2 separate regions of the Homo sapiens genome follow, and region 1 is linked to region 2. The links come from fine-mapping of genetic effects on gene expression. A gene starts in region 2. The other region holds a variant in brackets. All regions are shown on one strand. Distances are from middle to middle.

Region 1 (2,928 bases), 80 kb before region 2:
ATCGCCTTTCGACATTTCTGCAGGAGAGCTCTAGTCAACTCTCCTTGGGAAAAAAATTCCACTGGTAGGAAGTGATAAAGGACAAGAACCCAAATGATGAACTGCAGGACAGAAAGACCCCGGCCATTTCTCTGTCAGAAAAAATCATTTGTTCCCACAGGGTATCTTGATCAGGAAGGCTTCTCCCCCAGACATCCGCGCGGCTTCCTCCCTCGCTTCTTGAAGGTGTTTATTCAAAAACCACCTTCTAAATAAACCACCTTTCCCACCTTCGTATTTTTTTCTCTTCAGGACATACCACTGTCTAACATCCTTTATATCCTACCGATTTTTCTGTTATCTGCCTTGCACGAGGATGTAGATTCCAGGAAAGGAGGGATTTTTCTGTGTTCTGTTTGTTACCATATTCCTAACACCCACAGCAGTGCTTGGCAAATAGTCGGTGCTCAATAATGATTTGTTGAATTAACAAATAGGTCAAAGTCTTCTGTGTATAATCTGTAAACGCTGAATGAGAGAACGGAAATAGCTGTACTATAGGGTAATTTGTGGGAAAATATCTGGTTGAGTTACATTAGGAAATGTTAACTGTGAAGTAATGGTGCTCATTTTAATGGTATTTGGTGGTATAGCATTAATGATTATGATTGGGGAGCTTAGAAATGAGTAAGCTTTTTCCCAGTAAAATTAATACGATGTACTCTTTTTTTACTTTGAAGAATTTGCTGTTTGAGGGGTCTTTCAAGATTCTTCAGGGTAAGGTAGACTGCAGTGAAAATTCAGAAGCCCTGAAGAAGTTAATGGTGGTGCACAAATACTCTGGAATATTATGCAACAGTAAAAACAAATGAAAAGAATGGAATAGATCCCTGTAGTGACAGCTCCAAGATGTGTAATTGAGTGAAAAAAAAAAGAAGCTGTAGTATGATATTTGTCTACAATAACATCTTTGTACACACACACACACACACACACACACACCCCTAGAAGATCCGGAAGGATACACATGAAACTGTTAACATTGCTTATAACCAGAAGTGAAAGGGGGTGCCATAGGTGGGGGAAAACATCAGAATTTCACAATAATCAAAAGGGACTGCAATGTTATTTGCAATAATTATGTTTGTATAATGAAATATATTAATGGAATACTTATGTAACTAAATTTTTAGAAATCAAAACAGGAAGCAAAAGAAATTGCTTCTGATCAGGGAGGTAAGAGGATAGGGCCCTGCCAGAGACAG[A/G]AAGTGTAAAAACACACAGATTGTTTTTCACTAGAAGAGCCAGAAGTGTCCATGAGAGTGTCTAAATGATTTGAATTTATTTGTCATCGATGTGCCTGTAAGTTTCTAACACAAAGTTGATGACTCTACACATCTCTCCTTGCTTTCCTCAGAAAAGCCCAAACCAAGTACTTCAAATGCATAATTTGTAAAGATTGTGATGATGTACACAGAAAAATTTGTCATTTCCATCTCATTGAAAAAGGCCTCTCACTTCCTTAGCCAGATCGTCTCTCTAATCCTCAGACTAAAACTGAACAGCTCTGGGATACATAATGACTACAGAAGCAATTTCAGAAACTTCTGGAGGGAAGCATCACACAAATGAATGATTCTGTGGTTCAGAATTATTAGCTTGATGCCCAGATGCATATCGTATTTGCAAGAGGCAGTTTACAATCTGCTCAGCTTAACAAATGCAGCACAAGGGGATTTAAATCCCTGCATTTGCAATTTCTGTCTCTCCCTCTCCAAATTTATGGTGAAATTATAGACACCAGTAATGTGTCAGGGCTGAGTGAACTGAGGTCTCTGCTCTGCTCTCACAGCTCCATTTCACTCAAAGGAGAGTAATAAATGGAAAGCAACAAAAAAGTCTCAGCAGATAATGAATCTGTGTCCTAATGACCTTCCCAAACTACAAAATGGATTCATAATTTACCTGATATTGCCCAAACCATTCGGTGCCTGTTGTGAGGTGTTAAGATATTTTGGACATTTTAGACCACAAATGTGCATTTTAAGCAGTTCCTCAATGATTCAAGAAGGCTCCGAACTACCTTTCCCTGTCAAGGTACAATTTTCCATCAATGACAGCGGAAGGCATGTTTCCACCCTTCCCTGTTTGCTGCCTTGATAGTGATGTGATCGATTACTAAGGAGTCTTGGTCTGTTCTGCAGACCCTGGGACTACAGTGTGGCCATTTGTATAAGATACGGGTGTTACAAGCCAATGCGTGGTATCACACATCTGTCTCTATTTTAAAACCACTTGGTCTCCGGCAAGGATTGCAGAGTGGAGGCTCACATTTATTCAAGGGAAGTCATGTGCAAAATAATATGTTTGCTTGCTGAACAGGTCTGTCACTTGCTGGTCATCTCCATCTGAGTTTGCTGCAAAGGAAGCAGTTGATCGGCCACTACTAGGGCATCAATACCAAATAGGAATAACACATATGAAATGGTCTGAAATTAGTAGGCTTTAGAAATGAAAAGCAGCTAGGCACAGTGGCTCACGCCTATAGCCCCAATACTGTGGGAGGCTGAGACGAGAGGATCGCTGGAGCCCAGCAGTTCGAGGCTGCAGTAAGCTATGATCGTACCACTGAATTCCAGCCTGGGGAACAGAGGGAAACCCTATTTCTAAAATTAAAAAAAAAAGGCTCACAGATTTTTAAAGATCTTTGTGTATTGCATCCAAATGTTGCCTTTTTTTCCATGCCAGAGCTAAAATGGAAATAAGTCATGAGATAAAGTAAAAGAGAACATCTACTGATTTTCATGAACTCATACTTTTTATTCATTTAATCACCTCTCTATCCTTATGTTCATCCAGTCAGTCCACAAACATTTATTACAATTGTTGTACACTTTCCCAAGTAAAATAAGGTTCAATTTGAAATTTACTTTGTGCTTCTTTCATCCA
Region 2 (2,928 bases):
AAAATACTAACCAATAGTTAATTAAGTCATTTTTGGGATGATTACCTGGTTTTTATTAGATCCAACCTGATTTTTAAGAGGTGCTAGGTGTAGATCGATAGCTAGCTAGCTAGCTAGATAGATATATAGATAGAACCTACTCCGGATAACTATTAAATGAGCTTACTCTCAGCCCACAATATCTTAAAAATAGATTATCTTTATTCTAACTATTCTCTTTATAACACATTTTCACCCAGTGGAATCAAGCACTGAAAATATGTGCTATGATTGCTTCATCTAAGTAACATAATGCCAGAAAACCAAATTGTAGTCATAGTGTTTATTTAGCAAAAATATTTTTAACTCGCTACTTAGCATCATGTAAATGCAACATCAAATAATCACTGAAATATGTCATCAAATATAATTAGCAAAAATATTTTTATCTGGCTATTTAGCATTACATATATGCAACAATAAATATTCATTGCAGCAAATAATCAAATATGAGTTTTTCTCTGATTTTAATCAAATTCATATAAAGACTATTTAATGATAGAATACAGCCTTTTCTTTTCACCTTTTCTTCTTATTAAATGCTAGGGAGCACAATTACCATTTGAACCTCACATTAATAAATTTTCAAGTCCTTTGCTAACATCAAAATAGTTTAAATTTATACCTATTTATTTTCCTAATCTAGGTTTCAGCAATTATATCACAATTTTCTGAAACGTTCACAAAGTTAATTTTGTTCCATTTTTCTCCAGTTACAAATACATACACATACATCTGTTTAAATTTCCACTCACCTTATTTTGATTGTATTTTCAAAATATATAAACGCTTTTTCTTGTCAAAAGGTGACGGTAAGTTATCTGTGTGAAATAGTTGTAGTAAAGGGAATTCTAGCATTTTTAACACAATAAATATCACTTTCTTCATTAAAGAATTCCAAAATGTAAAAAGCATACTTAAAGCTGCTTTGGGCCAGGCACAGTGGCACAAGCCTGTAATCTCAGCATTTTGGGAGGCCGAGGTGGGTGGATCACAAGGTCAGGAGTTCAAGACCAGTTTGGCCAACATGGTGAAACCGTGTCTCTACTAAAAATACAAAAATTAGCCAGGCATGGTGGTGGGCGCCTGTAATCCCAGCTACTCGGAGGCTGAGGCAGGAGAATTGCTTGAATCCGGCAGGCAGAGGTTGCAGTGAGCCAAGATTAGGCCATTGCACTCCAGCCTGAGCGACAGAGACTCCATCTCAAAAAAAAAAAATAAAAAATAAAAAAATAAAAAAAAACTGCTTTGAAGAAAGTGTTTCAAAGAGCAAAATCATGATGCAATTATTGTAATCTCAATGTCTGAAATCTAGACTACAGATTTTAAATATTTTCATTTTTAGGTATGCTATGATAATTAAGTACTATGAATTAGGTTACTGTACTATATAACAGTCAACTAAAATTGCAATCTTGTTTTATTAGTTTTTCAGATCTAGAACTTCAGCCTATGCAGCATGTGTCCAAAAAGAGGATCTTTTCTGTAACCACTAGCTGACACTAATTTTTTTAAATTAAGAAAGGAAAGCTAGATTACAATTATATACTCACCTTTCGGTGTCTTGAAATATTCCGGCAAAATTAAAATGAATGTGATCACTATTGCCACAAATAATTTAAGGAGGGCTGTTTTTGTCATGTCTCTTCACATGACACAAATGTGTTCCCTTGCAGTACATTCATGGTATGTTGCTTCCTGCTTTAAGTTTATCTCTGCAGCACTTTAGGTTAATGCAGTTCACCTCATACTCACTTCCTTTTGAGTAAGACTTAAAAAAAAAAAAAGGTCTTGAACTGAGACTTCACTTTTGAGTCACTTCCCATTAAAAAAAAAAACTACCCCCCAAATAAGCACTTTCAGACCATTTATTTGTCTTTCTAAGCAAGAAAGGTAAATAAATGATCTCAAGAAGCAAGGGGATCTTCTCCCCACCCAATTTATAAATATAAACCCACAGTATACTCACAAAAATAAAACGGTGGGCTGGGCGAAGTGGCTCACATCTGTAATCCCAGCACTTTGGGAGGCCAAGGCAGAAGGATCACTTGAGTTCAGGAGTTTGAGTCCAGACTGGTCAATAGAGCAAGCCCTCCTCTCTACAAAAATAATTTTAATATAGCTAGGTGTGGTGGTGCACTCCTGTAGTCCCAGCTACTCAGGAAGCTGAGGATCACTTGAACCCAGAAATTTGAGACTGCAGTGAGCCATGACAGGCCACTGCACTCCAGCCTGGGTGACAGAGTGAGATCCCTTCTCAAGAGAGAAAGAAATAAAAGGGTGAATGTCAGTCATGTCTAGGTTGCATGCACATGACTCATTCATTTACTTATTAAATGATTGTCGATCCTGTTTGGTGCCAGGTGCTGTGCTGAATTCTGGTGTTCAGAAAATAGTACATCTAGAAGATAGAAACATTTTAACCATTGCCAATTTAAAAGGAAAAAAAAGTATTGTTTAATTTGCATTTGTTTGGTTGACAGTAATTCTAAAGATTTTTAATATTTGCTGGCAATTTGAATTTCTTTTGTTAATTGCATGTTCATGTCTTTTATTGCAGCATTTATATCCTTCCTGTTGATCTATAAGACTTTTTTCTCTATTGGGAATATGAAATCTTTGCATATGTTTTGCAAACATTTTTCCCAGGTTGTCATTTGCCTTTTCATTTTGTATATGGTGGGAGTTTTTCCACCCAACTATTTTGTAACAGAGTATAAAACACGTACCTAAAAGTTTTATGCAGAGAAACACAGTTCTTCATTGTATTTCTAATATTACACGAAATAATGTATAGTTTATCAATTTAATCATTTATTCTTTTGTTTTTGTTTTTTGTTTTTTGAAACGGAGTCTCAATCTGTCTCCAGGCTGGAGTGCAGTGGTGCA

Evidence for each region. PIP is the estimated chance that this variant, and not a neighbour inherited with it, causes the effect. A credible set is the group of variants that fine-mapping cannot tell apart.
Region 1: its variant is the best candidate, but not a certain one, in a credible set for the expression of TMEM156 in whole blood (TOPMed, PIP 0.60).

What each region holds. Positions count from the first base shown.
Region 1 is chr4:38,950,476-38,953,403 of GRCh38, forward strand. No RefSeq gene overlaps it. Among named protein-coding and RNA genes, the nearest start is that of TMEM156, 80 kb to the right of the region's middle. The variant A/G (reference allele first, on the strand shown) is at 1,245.
Region 2 is chr4:39,030,634-39,033,561 of GRCh38, forward strand. TMEM156 (transmembrane protein 156) reads right to left here and starts at 1,776. Exons shown (of 7, transcript NM_024943.3): 1 at 1,593-1,776. The coding sequence starts at 1,680.